Linked DNA regions of Homo sapiens: region 2 is linked to region 1. The links come from fine-mapping of genetic effects on gene expression. A gene starts in region 1. The other region holds a variant in brackets. All regions are shown on one strand. Distances are from middle to middle.

Region 1 (4,326 bases):
CGACAGAATGAGACCTCATCTCAAAAAAAAAAATAAATAAATAAAAAGCACGGGACCTTGAGAAATCCAAGGTCATTAGTATAGAATTAACATACATATTTGATTTTATTGTTAAACGAGAAGAGAGAATTATGAGTAAACGTCCTCATAAATAACTTTCTGGGCTGAGCAAAAGCAGGGTGGCAAGATCAATGCTCCAGGCTAGAAATGGGTCCTGAGAGATATAAAATTTTCTACTTGAGACTAAGGTATATCTTTTTTTTTTCCTTTTTTTTTTTTTTTTTTTTTTTGAGGCGTCTCAATCTGTCGCCCAGGCTGGAGTGCAGTGGCGCCATCTTGGCTTACTGCAAGCTCCGCCTCCTGGGTTCACACCATTCTCCTGCCTCAGGCTCCCGAGTAGCTGGGACAACAGGCGCCCGCCACCACACCCGGCTAATTTTTTGTATTTTTAGTGGGGTTTCACCATGTTAGCCAGGATGGTCTCGATCTCCTGACTTCGTGATCCGCCCGCCTCCGCCTCCCAAAGTGCTAGGATTACAGGCGTTGAGCCACCGCGCCCAGCCCATAGACTAAGGTATATGTTTAACGTTCTAGGACCACAGTAAAACATGAACGAAAAGGACCGATGTTGAAAGACCAGGGAGTGGAGAAACAACAAAAAAAGCAAAAGAGAGGAAGCTAGGAGCTGCTTCTGAATCCCTGAACAGCTCCCCGCAAGTTACTTTTCATATTTTGTAGCTGATCAAAACAGTCTACTTTCCCCTTTCCTTATAACTGATACAATCCATTACAAACCTTTGGAATTCATTTTTTCCCAAATCTAGTTGGATTCAGGTTCTCCAGCGACACCTTAACTTTGGATCGTGGAGGAAGGTGCATTTCGGAGGATCAGTCCAGTACTAGAAAAACTATATACGAGGCCAGGCGCAGTGGTGGCTCACGCCTGTAATCCCAGCACTTTGGGAGGCCGAGGCAAATGGGTCACTTGAGGTCAGGAATTGAGACCAGCCTGGCCAACACAGTGAAAACCCCTCTACTAAAAATGCAAAAACTAGCCGGGCGCGGTGGCACACGCCTTTAATCTCAGCTACTCGGGAAGCTGAGGCGTGAGAATAGCTAGAACCAAGGAGGAGGAGGCTGCAGTAAGCCGAGATCAAGCCGCTGCGCTCCAGCCTGGGCGACAGCGAGACTTCGTCTCAAAAACAAAACAAACAAACAAAAAATACATACCAGATAAATTTGGTAAGCTTTAAAACTTCCCCCACGTCTGGGCCGGGCGCGGTGTCTCACACCTGTAATCCCAACACTTTGGGAGGCCAAGGCGGGTGGATCAAGGTCAGGAGATCGAGACCATCCTGGCTAACACAGTGAAACCCCGTCTCTACTAAAAATACAAAAAATTAGCTGGGCGCGGTGGCGGGCGCCTGTAGTTCCAGCTACTCGTGAGGCTGAGGCAGGAGAATGGCGTGAACCCGGAAAGCGGAGCTTGCAGTGAGCAGAGATCGCGCCACTGCACTCCAGCCTGGGCGACAAAGCGAGACACCGTCTCAAAAAAAGAAAAATTAGCCGGGCGTGGTGGCACGCGCCCGTAATCCCAGCTAGTCTACTCGGGAGGCTGAGGTAAGAGAATCGCTGGAACCCGGGAGGCAGAGATGGCAGTGAGCCGAGATCGCGCCACTGCTCTCCAGTCTGGGCGACAGACTGTGACTCCGTCACAAAAACAAAACAAAACAAAACAAAAAAAACTTCCCCCACGTCTGTTTACCATTATTACAAAAAGCTTGTATGATTGCTCACTGCATCTTCTCCATCCTCCAAGGAAACATCATCGCATTTAAACTCTGTCCTCCATTACGCAAACGAGAAAATAGAGGTTCAGAGGAGGAGACAAGTTGCCCAACTACCAAAATACAAATTCAAACCGGAGTCTTGGCTCTAAAGACTGTTTCCGTTATTTACGCTTTTAACACGCTCCATCTTTCTATCTTCCCCTCGGTGTACCATTTACTCTACCCAGAGGGAGACATCCATGCCTCCCGCTGCTTGTCACACCTCCCCCGTCTCAGAGTCCCCAGAAGTTAAAAGCAATCTCCACGAGCCCTATTTTGAGATAGAATATGTTCCCACACTGTGGATGGAAGCGAGAGATAACTGCAGGAAGCCGTTTTGGCGCCTCAACCATCCCTCGGTACCTCCTCCTGGTCCCCAGCCTCTCGGGCCTAGACTGCCCGTGACCCCCGCCAAAGTCTCGGGTCCCCCTTCCATATGGCCGGTCTCCGCCTCCCCGGGCCCGGGGAAGTCTCCAGGCTGTTTTTTTACCCTGCAGCGAGAAGGATGGTGTGGATATCCAACGGATGCTACCTCCCTTCAAAACTTAAGCCACCACCAACTCCAACATACTGGCGTCCGCCATTAGACCTCAAGACAGGGACATTCTGGTGGCGCGCGGCGGAAAAAGGCACCCAATCCGCGCCTGAAGAATATATATAATTTTTAAAAAATGCTTCCGTCTTGCTTCCACACGGCATTACAAATTATTTAAACATGCTTTATTGCTTTGCTTTTTCCAGGAGAATAGAAAATTAATACGTTTTTAGAAGTAGACTTTAAAAAAAAAAAACCATTAGAGTTCATTGGGCACTTCTGTGGGCAGCCCCAAATAGGCGCCAACGAAGAGGGGGCCTCGCGGGACCGGAAGTGCCGAATGGGGACCAAGATGGCGGACCTTGATTCGCCTCCGAAGCTGTCAGGGGTGCAGCAGCCGTCTGAGGGGGTGGGAGGTGGCCGCTGCTCCGAAATCTCCGCTGAGCTCATTCGCTCCCTGACAGAGCTGCAGGAGCTGGAGGCTGTATACGAACGGCTCTGCGGCGAGGAGGTGCGGGGTCGAGCCTCTTCTTTTTCATGGAGGATCTAGGGAGAGTGGGAGCCTTCAGTCGGGAAATCCGGGCTGTGGGAAACTCTCCTTGCTGGGGGATACAAAAAAGCGGGAAAACAAAGAAGCGGAAGCTAGTCGGGTATATGAGTAGTCCTGTCAACTCTTTTCACGCTGTCGGACGCGCCGAGCTTGTCTTCCCTGATACCTGGGCGATCTGCAGCCTCTCCTCCCTAGACCCCCGTTGATTTCCCTGATCCATGATCACCAGTTTCTCCACGGGAGTAAAGTTAGTCTGAGAGTATTTGCCAAATTGCTTGGTTCTCAAAATAATAAGCGCCCTTTTGCATTGGCTTAATTTACAAATTATGAAACGCTCTCATCCTGTTATTTAAGAGGGAAGCCTTTGCAGATTAACTTCTTGAAGCGTTTTAAGACTTCCTCTTGTGGGGAGTGATTTGGGGGTGTGATTTTAGCGTTTTGGTCAAATGCACATCTTTGTAGAGGTTTAGCTTTTAAGACTCAGACACAATTCTCTAATCTTGGACAAGTCACTTCATCTCTGGTACCCTTGATATTTTATCAAATGAGGGGTGTGGACTATTCTCCAATTCCTTTCAGTTCATAACGTTCTATTTCCTGCCTCCTTTAATTTTCAGTGGCAACTCGATGCTGTCAATTCACTTTCGAATGTCAGTTGGGTTCCTTGCTAGTCAAAAGAGATCTAAGCTCTAAGCTTGTCAGCTGTTTCCCAGACCAAACTTCTAGCAAAGTTGAGCACAAAAGGCAGTTTCAGCCTGAGGGAGAGGTGATCGTTGATATCTTTGAGTATTTTCAAGTATAAACTTGCACTAACTCTAGCAGTTTCTGATACGTTTTTCAGCAAGATGTGTGTGGTGTTTTTTGTTTTGTTTTGTTATTTTTAGAAACAGGGCCGCTCTCTGTTGCGCAGGCTGGAGTGCTGTTGTGCTGCAATCAGAATGGATGAAACCAGAGGCGCACACCACCGTGCCTGGCTAGTTTAGTGTGTGGGGCTTTTTTTGTCTGGCCTCAGCAAGATGTGTTTTAAAATTTAGTATCTTGCGGGGCGCGGTGGCTCACGCCTGCCATCCCAGCACTTTGGGAGGCCAAGACGGGAGGATCACCTGAGTCAGGAGTTCGAGACCAGCATGACCAAAATGGTGAAAACCATCACTACTAAAAATACAAAACTAGCCGGGTGTGGTGACGCATGCCTGTAATCCCAGCTACTCGGGAGGCTGAGGCAGGAGAATTGCTTGAACCTGGGAGGCGGAGGTTGCAGTGAACCAAGATAGCGCCATTACACTCTAGCCTGGGCAACAAGAGCAAAATTGTGTCTCTTAAAAAAAAAAAAAGCCTGGCGCGGTGGCTCACTCCTGTAACCCCAGCACTTTGGGAGGCTGAGGCAGATGGATCACGAGGTCAGGAAATCG
Region 2 (4,385 bases), 43 kb before region 1:
GAGCCCAGGAGGTGGAAGCTGCAGTGATCTGTGATTGTACCACCACACTCCAGCCCGGGCGACTGAGTGAGACCTTGTCTCAAAAACAAACAATAAATCCAAAAATTATTAAACCCTACAAATATTTTAAAATTCTCACATTTACTTAAAGCTTAATGCCTCATAAAACATGCTAAAGTTACTGTTCATCATTTCTTACGATAAGAATCATTTTGTTAAATTTATCAAGCTTGCCATAAAAAAGGAAAACACAAAGAAAATTATAGAAAACAGCAATCACTAGGCTTGTCTTCTAAAATAGATTTGCCCGAAAGTCCAGAGATGCTCTATTAAAGCAGCACATGCCTACAGGAGAAAGTAAAGCCCAGGACACACCTCAGAGCAGAGGACTGGGAATGGACTCTCTCTAAGAAACTCGCTACTCTCCAAGGAGATTTTTTGCAGATTGGTAAGAAAGGACTGTGGACGGACAGCACTCAGCACAGTCGTGTGCACTATGAATAATTCACCAAAGGCAATTTCTTCAGTGAGGGCAACAGGAAAAGTGCTAAGCAGTGTTCTCCCTGGGGCCCATTCTGCAATCTTACCTTCTGGGAGGCCCCATTGAGCAAGCCACGGTCCCACAGGGCTTTGTTTCCTGTAGGATCCTCATCTACTTCATCATTGGTGTTAGGTGGGAGCCTCACCTACAAGGAAGTGACACAAGTCACACTGCTGGGGCCCGGACCTGCTCACCTGAGTCACCAAGCAACAGGTCTGGCCAGGTCTTTGCAAGTCAGCCACAGGGGCACTGCCTAGACAGAGGCCTGAGCCCACGTGTCCTGCACCTGCTCTGGTGGGCAGGAGCTGTGTCTGAGGAGCAAGAAACTCAAAAGAATCGACCCATGAGCAAGAGTTTAACACAGCTAAGGGTAAAACCAAAACCACACAACATAGATAACAGACATTCCAAAGTTCTTATAAAATGTAAAAAGAAATATTAGCCATTAGCTCAAACTAAACCTATCATTAAATCACGTTCAATAGGGAGGAGGGAGATAAACCACAGAGAAAAATCCAAAAGACTAGTAAGAAGGCTTAAAGAACAGATTGCTTGTAGAGTTAGCTTTAGTAGGATGGAATTTTATATCCATTTTTACTTCTCAGATTTGATTCCTCCTTGGCTTTACCCACAAGAAACTGAGCCAGCTTTCCTACACATCACTGTAACCCAAGTTAACAACATCAACTCACCACACATATGTTGCCAAACTTGTCTGCCCCAGCCACAGTGTCATAGTCCAGGAGGCTGGCTGTAGTGACCCATCGGGGGTAGGTATCATCAGCAAAGATGATAAGCTGGTTTTCATTACGCTTGTAGCGAACCCAGATGAAACTTTCTTGGACATCAGATACAATTACCCTATGTCCGATAGTCTGGATCCCAGAGATATAATTGGCAATATGCTGGGAAAAACAAAGACAATAGTGATGGTGGGTGTAATCTTGGGGTTCAGAACCCAAAGAAAGCCCAGCTTTCCGTATGACATACGTAGGGTCAGCAGAACAGCAAATACCAAAAACCAGCAGTTAGCAATGAATTCTAGGTGGGAAAAAAGAGCCAAATAGCTTTTAATATAGTGCAAATATATGCCTAACTCTCACATTTACTTTCCTTATAGAAGCTAGCAAGATAGAAAGCTGGTTCTTGTTTGGTAAGTCAAGAAATGAGATCCCTCTACTCCTGCTCCTCTCAAAACTCAAGGGCCGGTGCGGTGGCTCACGCCTGTAAACCCAGGACTTTGGGAGGCTAAGGCGGGTAGATCATGAGATCAGGAGTTAAGAGACTAGCCTGGCCAACATGGTAAAACCCTGTCTCTACTAAAGATACAAAAAATTTGCCAGGCGTGGTGGCGCGCATCTGTAATCCCAGCTACTTGGGAGGCTGAGGCAGGAGAATCGCTTGAACCCAGGAGGCGGAGGTTGCAGTGAGCCGAGATTGCGCCACTGCACTCCAGCCTGGGCAACAGGGCGAGACTCCGTCTCAAAAACCAAAAAACAAAAAAACAAGGGCATAATTCTGAAGCTGGAATTGGGGTAACACAACAAGTCCTAATAAAGATAAGATTTTAAAACTCAATGCCCACCACCCCACCAATGCCCCCACCCTTGACACATGAGCTAGATCTCAGCACCAATGCCAGCACACTTACCTTATTCTCACATTTTCGGAGTAACTTCTTCTTTCCCAGGTCATAGACACGCAACAGCTTCCCCACACCAATCAACACCCTCCCCTGGAATGGGGCAATAGCAGCAGGGACCTCTTCCACAGGAGTCTATAGAGGAAAAGCAGGTAATACAGCTATTATAAATGCCAGCCAGACACAGGCCTCACCTCTCTGCCCAGAAATGCCTACTTCCACAGGAGCCTATCATTAAGAAACACACCAGTGAGCTTATTTTGCTAATGAATCTGGGTGTTGGGGTGAACAAGTTCCGCATGCTGCATTCACTCAGTAGAGGGATCAATGCTGTAACTGACAAGAAGTTCTGGTACCAGACGACTGCTGTCCAGAGCTTGTGCTCTGTTTAACTGGTGTTATTTCAACAGTGAAGCCTTAGTAGCCAAGTGACTGTAATTTGTGGAGGGACAGGAAAGAAATGCTAGTGAAAAGTGACTTTTTTTTTTTTTTT[TG/G]AGACAGGGTCTCACTACTGCTCAGGCTGAAGGGCTGTGGCAGGCGCAATCATGGCTCACTATAGCCTGGACTTCCTGGGCTCAGGTGATCCTCCCACCTCAGACTCCCGAGTAGCTGGGACTACAGGCATGTGCCATCAAGCCTGACTAATTATCTGTATTTTTCGTAGAAACTGAGTTTCACCACATTGCCCAGGCTGGTCTCAAACTCTTGGGCTCAAGTGACCTGCTCGACTCAGACTCCCAAAATGCTGGGATTACAAGCGTGAGCCACTGCACCCAGCCTAGTGACATCTCAGTTGTAAAGGAGAGACAAATTTAATATGCAAAAGGGTCTATGAAGTATTTCTTAGAGGATACTCCCCTTATGGTAGGGTTGAAGGAATCCACATGCTGTCATTGTGGAGAAGAGAATATTCTTTTTATTTTAAAAATTATGGTAAAATAGTCATAACATAAAGTTTACCATCTTAATCCTTTTCTTTTTTTTGAGACAGAGTCTCGCTCTGTCACCCACGCTGGAGTGCAGTGGCGCAATCTCGGCTCACTGCAACCTCTGCCTCCTGGGTTCAAGTGATTCTCCTGCCTTAGCCTCTGGAATAGCTAGGGTTACAGGCGCCCACCACCATGCTTGGCTGATTTTTTATTTTTAATAGAGATGGGATTTCACCACGTTGACCAGACTGGTTTTGAACTCCTGAGCTCAGGTGACCCGCCCACCTCGGCCTTCCAAAGTGCTGGGATTACAGGCGTGAGACACCATGCCCAGCCAGTCATTTTTAAGTATACACTTCAGTGGCATTAAGCACATTTACTGTTGTGTAACTATCACCTCCAGAATTTTTTTCATCTTCCCAAACTGAAACTCTGTACCCATTAAACAGTAACTTCCCAGAGAATGCAGGTGGAAAAGAATATTAAATCTTTTTTTTTTTTTTGACAGTCTCACTCTTGTCACCCAGGCTAGAGTGCAATGGCGCAATCTCGGCTCACTGCAACCTCCGCCTCCCGGGTTCAAGCGATTCTCCTGTCTTAGCCTCCCGAGCAGCTGGGATTACAGGTGCGTGCCGCCATGCCTGGCTGATTTTTGTATTTTTAGTAGAGACAGGCTTTCACCATGTTGGCCGGGCTGGTCTCGAACTCCTGACCTCAGGTGATCTGCCTGCCTCGGCCTCCCAAAGTGCTGGGATTACAGGCATGAGCCACTGCGCCCAGCCAGAATATTAATTATTTAAACTGCTGAATTTTGGTCACAAATTGTTGCCTGCTTATTAAAACAGTAAGAAAGAGACCAATTGAATGTGCATCTATCTCCCCATTATGGATGGTTAGCACAAAGCCTTCCTGTGGAATGCACAGGCACAAGAACATCACTGCAGCTAGAAGGCCCCAGCATTTTCCATGTGCTGGTAAGAGAGAGATTGGAATCAAGGAGCTGGTCCCCAAAAGACCTGATCCATAACATAAGCAAAAGTGAGAGAATTCAATGGGACTTAAAATCTAGGAGAACCACTGGCAGATTCCTACCTTGTGCAAAAACTCCAGTTTTTCCCCATTGTTCACAAGCTTGTAAGTATAGACGAAGCCCCCTGCCACAGATCGGGGGTTTAGTATCAGGTCCTTGGCCACACCCACCAGCACATACCAGTCTTCACCAGTGTTGGAAAACCTGCACACAGCCACACTACACACAGAATAAGAAGCAAGA

The links. PIP is the estimated chance that this variant, and not a neighbour inherited with it, causes the effect. A credible set is the group of variants that fine-mapping cannot tell apart.
Region 2: its variant is the best candidate, but not a certain one, in a credible set for the expression of COG4 in monocytes after Pam3CSK4 (Quach 2016, PIP 0.52).

What each region holds. Positions count from the first base shown.
Region 1 is chr16:70,521,922-70,526,247 of GRCh38, reverse strand. COG4 (component of oligomeric golgi complex 4) reads left to right here and starts at 2,694. Exons shown (of 19, transcript NM_015386.3): 1 at 2,694-2,875. The coding sequence starts at 2,705. It overlaps SF3B3 (splicing factor 3b subunit 3), which reads right to left and starts at 2,432. Exons shown (of 26, transcript NM_012426.5): 1 at 2,320-2,432. RefSeq lists enhancers at 1,151-1,888, 2,922-3,061.
Region 2 is chr16:70,565,344-70,569,728 of GRCh38, reverse strand. SF3B3 (splicing factor 3b subunit 3) reads right to left here. Exons shown (of 26, transcript NM_012426.5): 20 at 4,205-4,361; 21 at 2,193-2,318; 22 at 1,234-1,446; 23 at 588-686. Among named protein-coding and RNA genes, the nearest start is that of SNORD111, 30 kb to the right of the region's middle. The variant TG/G (reference allele first, on the strand shown) is at 2,677.